2 linked regions of the Homo sapiens genome follow. The protein of the gene in region 2 interacts with the protein of the main gene of each other region in a pairwise test. Each region holds a gene or a part of one and is shown on either strand. Other genes may lie near its edges. The genes, in order: BOLL and SERF2.

Region 1 (3,917 bases), on a different chromosome or scaffold from region 2:
GAAAGAAAAATGGATCGAGGCTAAAACTATAGCTGATAAAGAAGGAGCAGTCACTCATATCAGCCAGAATGGAGGGTTGTTTGGTTATTCTTGTGGTTTGGGCAATGCCTTTGTTTTTGTCAGCATTCAAACATGATTATGGAGTGGTCTTGTTTTTAATCTTGATCCATCAGAGTCACAGGGTGACTTTGTCTGATGTTGGTGTTCTGTTAACAAGAGAACACCACAGCCTAGCTGTGAGTGCCAGGCCAACTCCTAACAACACCAGGGTGTAGTTGATTGTGTCAGGCTGGGACTGTTTTCTCTTTCTCAAACATGTTCATGAGTTTAATATTCCCCTTAATAATTAAGTAATAGGTTTGATAATAATATAAGCATTTTAAGTAATATATTTAATATTTAAAATCTCTATAGTGGAGTAGATTCTGTGTTTCCTAGTTCTGTTGCCTTAAAAAGCTCTTAGCTCTAATTATAATTTTTATAATATTAAAAGTAAAGCCTAGAATACTATATTTTGCCTAAATGACTCTTCTTTTTGAAAAATATATGTTTTTGGTCTGCATCAAAAGCAGACTGCATTATACCCAGTGCAAAAAGTGTAAAAGAATTTTATTTTACAGCAAACATCAAACCAGATGCAAACAGATTCATTATCTCCATCCCCTAATCCTGTGTCACCTGTGCCTTTGAATAACCCAACAAGTGCCCCAAGATATGGAACAGTGATCCCTAATCGCATCTTTGTAGGAGGAATTGATTTTAAGGTACCTATTTATGCATGCAGTAAAGTGTATTTTTTCATTAGAAGTCTTTATTTCTCAGAAATTATTTCTTTGTGCAACTATAAAATAACATATTTGCATAATGATTAACAGATTTTGAATTATCTTATTATAAAGAATCTTTTCAACCAGCATGTAGGTTACATAAAGCATTAAAAACTGTTCAATGTCAGATATAAAGAAATTGATCCTCACTGACTTGCTGTGGGCTGCTAGCCACATAGTGACAGAGTGAGACTAGAAGCCTAGTTTTCTGTCTCATAGCTCCATACTCTTCCATACCAGAACTAATTATACTTTCTTGCCTAATATTCCAATAGCCAAAATAATTGATTATTATAATTTTCAAAAGAGACTCTATTTTTTAAAAACTTACTTTTATGAAATACTATTTCTTTACCCCAACTCTTATCTCAGATTCCTGAGCAACCTCCTAGGCATCTATTCTTTGCAAAGCACTTTCTATGTTAGAATTTAGGATTTGATCACCAAAAAAGTCCTGTGTCCTTGTCAGAATAAAGCATCTTAAAAGTAGTATATTTAAGCAGAAAAAAAAATAACTATTCGGTACTAGGCTTAGTACCTGGGTGCCAAAATAATCTATACAACAAACCCCAATGATGAGTTTATAACAAATCTGCACGTGTACCCCGAACTTAAAATAAAAGTTTTTTAAAAACTAATATATTTATATCATGTAATCAGCCATTCCACTGTTTCAAGAAAGCATAGTTCATGACATGATGTGCAGTGCCCCCCAGCCCACATAGGGGAGGTAAGAGTAAACACCTACAAGAAAGGCATGCATAGATATTTTAAGTGGAATACTCTTACTTTCAAATGGATATATAGAAGGATTTCCAAGCTTCTATTTTACATATTAGAAATTATAGGGAGAGTTATCATTTTCAACAAAAAAAAAACCTTCCTTATGCCATTAGGTGTGATATTTGACATTTATAACTATTTCCATATAACCAATCTGTTACAATTTGGGTGGAATTTCTTTTTTCCTGCACAAGAGAAATGTTACACTTAGTGTATTTGCCAAAACAATGAGTCTTAAACAAGTATATGATTGTTTCACTAAAAATAAAGTAAGAAAAATTATTTCTTATAAAATATTTATTTTTAAAAAGATTTTCTTTGTGGAAAATACTGATAGCTGGCAGAAATGTTCAATTTGGGAATTCATTTATATTACAATAGATTAGCATGTTTTTAAAAATAAGTTATCAATAAATATAAACATTTGTATGGCCAGGTTATTTTAGGTTACTGAAGCCCATCAGCTACAGCATGCACTTTGGAGACGGTTGTTATAATGCAGCCATAGCTTTAAGGTAATTGCTAGGGCTTCCTCCTGTATACTTATACCTTTTTCAAAACCACAGATAAAGGCCAGCAAGGAAATCATTTACTTTAATAGCAAGTAGTCACAGACTTTTTAACCTTTCATTTTTATAAGCAAACAGACTATCCCTCTTAATGCTTACTTTTCTTGACTGTCTCTTTGTCACTAAAGAAGTGGAGCTACAAAATTGAGGTAGTGATTATTCTACCAGAGAATAGTTGGAATTAATTTGTATTCAAATATCTAGTAACAATTCTTATTCTAGCATTGATTTCATTTTCTGTTAACTGAAATAAAAGTCATTCAGTTTTTCTTAGATTGAATCAGTATTTGTCATTATGCAGCTTAGCAGGCTTTATGTTACCAACTAAAAACCAATAGTGTATGTAAGTAGTGAGGTGGCAGTTGAACTCAAAAGGCATAGCTCTGCACTAAGGCATGTCTTTTTGCAGTGTATATAAAGAAATTTTTTTCTAGAGAAAAGTTACTCTTGTAGACAAACAGTTACAGCTAAACCAGGAAATGAAATTGCAATGAATTTAGTGTCAGTATTCTGAGAAAAGGTGATATGAGTCTATTATCAGACTATTTCAATTAAAAAAACAGACATGCCAAAACCATCTTTGTAGACACCTTGTATGCTTTAAATCTAATTATGATTCCAATTTTTATTTTATTATCAAAACAATGTCTGAATTTAGCTGAAATGTATATTGAGTACAGATAAGGAATCTAATAACTTTAAATCTTATAGTCACTCCATTGTTCTCACAGTTGAGTTCAAGCACTTTTGGAAATACATTCCTTTCCTAAAACTGACTTAGGAAAGGAGTTCCTGAGACTACTGATTAAAATAGAATGACTGGTGTAGGCCAACACAACCTAGTTCCACTGCCATGACTGTCTCTGAGCCACAAGAGCCAAAATAGTATTGTACCCTTACTATGGAAATAGCATTCCTAATCCAAATTGGCTTTTTAAAAACTGGCCAGCTAGAGAACAAGAATCATTTAAAGATTTCTTTAAATAGTGAGTTTTGTAGTTTTAAAATAATTCAGCTTACATTTTTATTGGCATATGGTAATTTAACAACATAGCTATTGCATAAAGCAAGATATTTACCTTGATTTTAATCACCTAGTGGTTTATGCACTGTTTTGATGATGAGAGGCATTTTTCATGCATCTTATCTATAACTTTTTCTGTCTCCAGAGCAAGCATGAGAATTATTCATCTTTTATCAACTAAAAATGCTTTTTAACGTTTTCTTTTTATGCCATTAGACAAACGAAAGTGATTTAAGAAAATTTTTTTCCCAGTATGGGTCTGTGAAAGAAGTGAAGATTGTAAATGACAGAGCTGGAGTATCCAAAGGGTTAGTATCACTATAGATTGTCTATGGAATTAGCAACTCTATTTTCATTGGATGACTAGGTTTTGTACGCCAGTTTACTTTGGTTCCATTTTCCAGCAGAGACCATCATGCCCTCTTCTTTCCTCCTACCTTTTGATTTCCTTGTGTGTGTGTGTGTGTGTGTGTGTGTATTTTGGAGGGAGGAGACACTGTAATATTTCTTAATTTGTTGAGAAGTTATTCTTGCATGGGTGGAGGGACCATTCAGTGGTAGGCAGCAAGCACTTAATGTAAGTAGCAGATGTACATTAGCTGAGGAATGAGAAGCAAAAGGAATCAGATTCTTTTGGAATTGTATCCCTGCTTTAGGCCATAGAGAGCTTTATTTGAAAACAGCTGACACCAAGAAATGTCTGTAGGTTGTGCC
Region 2 (3,917 bases):
CAGAAAAGAAGTCTCTATGGTTCTTAGAGGATTCCTCTACTGCATATCCGGAGTACTTGTTTGGTTGTCATTGTATAATAAAGGCTTCTTCTGTGATGTTTCACTTATTAAGTCTACATACCCACAATCTGAATCTAAAGAGTTCTCCCTTTTTTGGTGGGAAAGGGCAGTCATTCTTCCAACCCCATCCCCCCAAGTCCCCAGTCAAACCAGGCGCTCAAGGAATTACAAAGCTACTTTTAATACTTTGGGGTGAGCCCCACAGGAATAAAAAACACTGGGAAGGGGTAACCCCCTCACCCCCGGGAGTGGCCCAGGGGGAGAGAGGCTACCTGAGGGGAAGGAAGCACAAAAGGGACCCGCTGCAGACTCAGGGCAAAGGGAATGCCATCGGTGCTGGGACCTGTGAGCACTACAGGAGGAAACGCGAGCGTGGTGGGACTGGCTCCAGGCACACAGGCGAAGGGCAAGAGGGTTGGACACGAAGCCACAAAGCTACTTGGGTTCCTCCTTCTTCTCGTTTGCCTTTTTCTGCTTCTGCTGCATGATCTCCGAGTCCCTGGGGGTAGAGATGATGGGGCACTGGGAGGTACCAGAGGGCAAAAAGGACAAGATGCAGGGGGATGAAGGGCACAAAGGATAAGATGGAAGTGGATGGGACTAAGTTCAGCGTTTGGCTGCTGTACTCCCACCCTAGGAGAACAAGAGGAAGAGAGCTGAGGCTCAAAAGGCGACCAGTCTCCATCTGGCTGTTGCCCAAGGGGTCAGAAGTCTGGTGACACAGGCCCAAGGGTCTCTATTCTGTATTGAGGACCACACCCAGCAACACCAGTGAGGAGGTTGGGAGAAGGGAGGAGAACCGAACAGCAAGGAGGGCCAAAAGTACTGGGCTGCCGTAACCACAACTGTATTTGAAATGTGAAGCTCCCTGCCCTTGCCCTTAAGGTCAGACCCAGGGACGCTCAGAAATCAGACTGAGGGCAGGCGCCCGCCCCCGTCCTTTCCTGTAAGGCTGTGAGCTAACAATTTGGAGGGTGGGGAGGAAATAAAACCCTAGAGGAAGCAATGCACTCTGCTCCTCACGACTAGTCCACATTCAAGCCCTGAGGTAGCTCTCTTTCCTTCTATAACCCTTGGTCTAACCCAGGTCTCCACCGTCCCTTTCCCTCCCCTCCCTGGGGCTACCTCTGCTTGCGGGCGGCAGCAGAAAGCCCGTCATCTCGGCGCTTTCCCTTAACCGAGTCGCTCTGCTTTTTCATATTCTTCTGGCGGGCGAGCTCACGCTGGTTACCGCCTAAGGAAAGAAAATTAAAGGTGAGACGCGGGGGCCGCTCTGCCCACACACCGGCGACCCTTCTACCCCAGCGCGGCCAGCAGCAGGATCCAACACCACTTCAATCTCCGGGCCCCGACAACGGCCCATCGAGGCCCAGGCTGCTTGGGGTAGGGGGGAGTGGCGAATCTGCCACGGGCCAGGTCAAAATACGGACTAGAGAAGGGAGGTCCCAAGGGGCCAGCTGGAGGCGTGTTTTGGGGCGGCGTGGGGCCCAAACAGCTGGCAAGGTGTGTGTGGACGGTTTGGGTCTCCGTGGGGGATGGGCTGGCTTGTGGAGTGGGGGCTCTGGGCCTATCACAGGGGCGCTGGCCTTCTCCTTACACCGCGGAAGATCCGGGAGGGCCTATGCCTAACCCGGGAGGGTGGTCCCGTGAAGTAGCCGTGGGCAAAGGGCTCGATTTCCGGGCACCGAGTGTGAGGGTGGCCACAGAGCGCGCCCAGAGAAACGCCTTGCTAGGGAAGCTACGGAAGGTCAAAGCCGGCGCCTCGCCGGTGGTGTTTAGGGTGAACGGAAAGAAAAGGGCAAGGAGAAGGGGGCTCGGTGCTCACGGGTCATGGCGACGGCAGCGGCTCCAACCTGCCTCCGTTACGTCCCCTCGTTCTGTCGGACGTTGCAGGTCCCGCCCCTTCTGGCAACGTAGCACAGTCGTTCCTTTCCTCCCCGCCCCTTCGCGCCCGGGAGCCGGCTCCCATTGGACAAGAAAAAGCACGTGGATCCACGGGTCGTGCTTGAGCCGGGGTGGGTAAGTGGCGGAGGGTCGCAGGCGGAGCGCTCAGCGTGGGGCGGGGCTTCCCGAGTGAGACGTAGGGACGGGCCTGGAGAAACTAGGCCGGGTCACGTGGGCAGGTTGGGGGTGGAGGGGTGCGGCTGGCGATGTGGCGCTCCCGCGGGCTCGAGCACGTGACCGTGCAGAGTGACCTCATGCGGGGACAGTTTGGGGTACTGACAAAGTCGCCCTGAAAGAACGCCCGTAGACAAGAGGGCGGGGTTTCAGCCAGTTCTGTGTTACGAGTACTCTACTACTAAACTTGTGCTTACTTAGGACCACCTCTCAGCCACTTATTTGGACACGAGTTGTTCACAGCTCGCTTAAAATCAAGTACAAACACAACTTCAGAAACCCGCTTCTACTCCCATTGTCCCCTTCCACGCCCCTTCACTGTAGAAAATCGCAGCAACATCTGGTATTTCCTAAAACTCTACCCTGTTCGTTTTCCCCCAGAAACTTTAAATGTGAACATGCAGCTTGGAAGTATTGGAGGACTCCAAAAGTCACAGACTATGGAGTTGGATCAGTGGCTGAGATTAGATAATTCACATATTCGCTTTTCCCCTCTGGAGCTTTTCTTACTGTACCATCGCCACCAGCCACCCGGTTTTGTATTAAGACCCTGGAGGGCCGGGCGTGGTGGCTCACGCCTGTAATCCCAGCACTTTGGGAGGCTGAGGTGGGCAGATCAGAAGGTCAGGAGTTCGAGACCAGCAGCCTGACCAACAATGGTGAAAACCCTAAAAATACAAAAAATTAGCCGGGCGTGGTGGCGCGCCTGTAATTCCAGCTACTTGGGAGGCTGAGGCAGGAGAATCGCTTGAACCCGGGAGGCGGAAGTTGCAGTGAGCCGAGATCGCGCCATTGCACTCCAGCCCAGGCGACAGTGCGAGATCCCGTCTAAAAAAAAAGTTAATAAGAATTAGCCGGGCGTGGTGGCGGGCGCCTGTAGTCCCAGCTACTCAGGAGGCTGAGGCAGGAGAATGGCGTGAACCCGGTAGATGGAGCTTGCAGTGAGCCGAGATCGCACCACTGCACTCTAGCCTGGGCGACAGAGCGAGACTGCATCTCAAAAAAAAAAGAGTTAATAAGAAAGGCTGGGCAAGGTGGCTCACGCCTGTAATCCCAGCACTTTGGGAGGCAGAGGCGGGTGGATCACGAGGTCAGGACATCGAGACCATCCTGGCTAACACGGTAAAACCCCGTCTCTACTAAAAATACAAAAAAAAAAAATAGCTGGGTGTGGTGGCAGGCGCCTGTAGTCCCAGCTACTTGAGAGGCTGAGGCCGGAGAACCGTGTGAACCCAGGAGCAGCAGCTTGCAGTGAGCCGAGATCACGCCACTGCCCTCCAGCCTGGGCGACAGAGCCAGACTCCATCTCAAAATAAATAATAAATAAACAGTTAATAAGAGACACCCAAGCTGGAGTGCATTGGCGTGATCTCGGCTCACTGCAACCTCTGCTTCCTGTGTTCAAGCTATTCTCCCACCTCAGCCTCCCAAGTAGCTGCGATTACAGGCACCCGCCATCATGCCCGGCTAATTTTTGTATTTTTGTTTTTCTGGAGATGGGATTCCATCATGTTGGCTAGGCTGGTCTGGAACTCCTGACCTCAGGTGATCCGCCCTCCTTGGCCCCCCAAAGTGCAAGGATTACAGGTGTGAGCCACGGTGCACAGCCACAATTGGGTATATCTTGATGAGCACAGCATATTCCTATAATCATGAAAGATACAGAGAAAAAAGCTCTCTCACACTTTCTCTCTCTCCCTCTCCCTGTCTGCCTCTCTCTCTCTAATATCCATATATGT

What was found.
Region 1: the proteins of SERF2 (region 2) and BOLL interact in a two-hybrid assay, tested with the Homo sapiens proteins (2 studies listed by BioGRID and IntAct).

The regions. Positions count from the first base shown.
Region 1 is NC_000002.12:197,778,569-197,782,485, reverse strand, and holds part of BOLL (protein boule-like), read left to right. Parts: intron 1-620; coding exon of another isoform or gene 621-635; coding exon 636-764; intron 765-3,419; coding exon 3,420-3,511; intron 3,512-3,917. UniProt on the Homo sapiens protein: Probable RNA-binding protein, which may be required during spermatogenesis. May act by binding to the 3'-UTR of mRNAs and regulating their translation.
Region 2 is NC_000015.10:43,790,352-43,794,268, reverse strand, and holds the start of SERF2 (small EDRK-rich factor 2), read right to left. Parts: upstream 1,950-3,917; 5' UTR 1,893-1,949; coding exon 1,886-1,892; exon of another isoform or gene 1,658-1,885; intron 1,295-1,657; coding exon 1,186-1,294; intron 694-1,185; coding exon of another isoform or gene 560-693; coding exon 496-559; coding exon of another isoform or gene 297-495; 3' UTR 1-296. UniProt on the Homo sapiens protein: Positive regulator of amyloid protein aggregation and proteotoxicity. Induces conformational changes in amyloid proteins, such as HTT, driving them into compact formations preceding the formation of aggregates.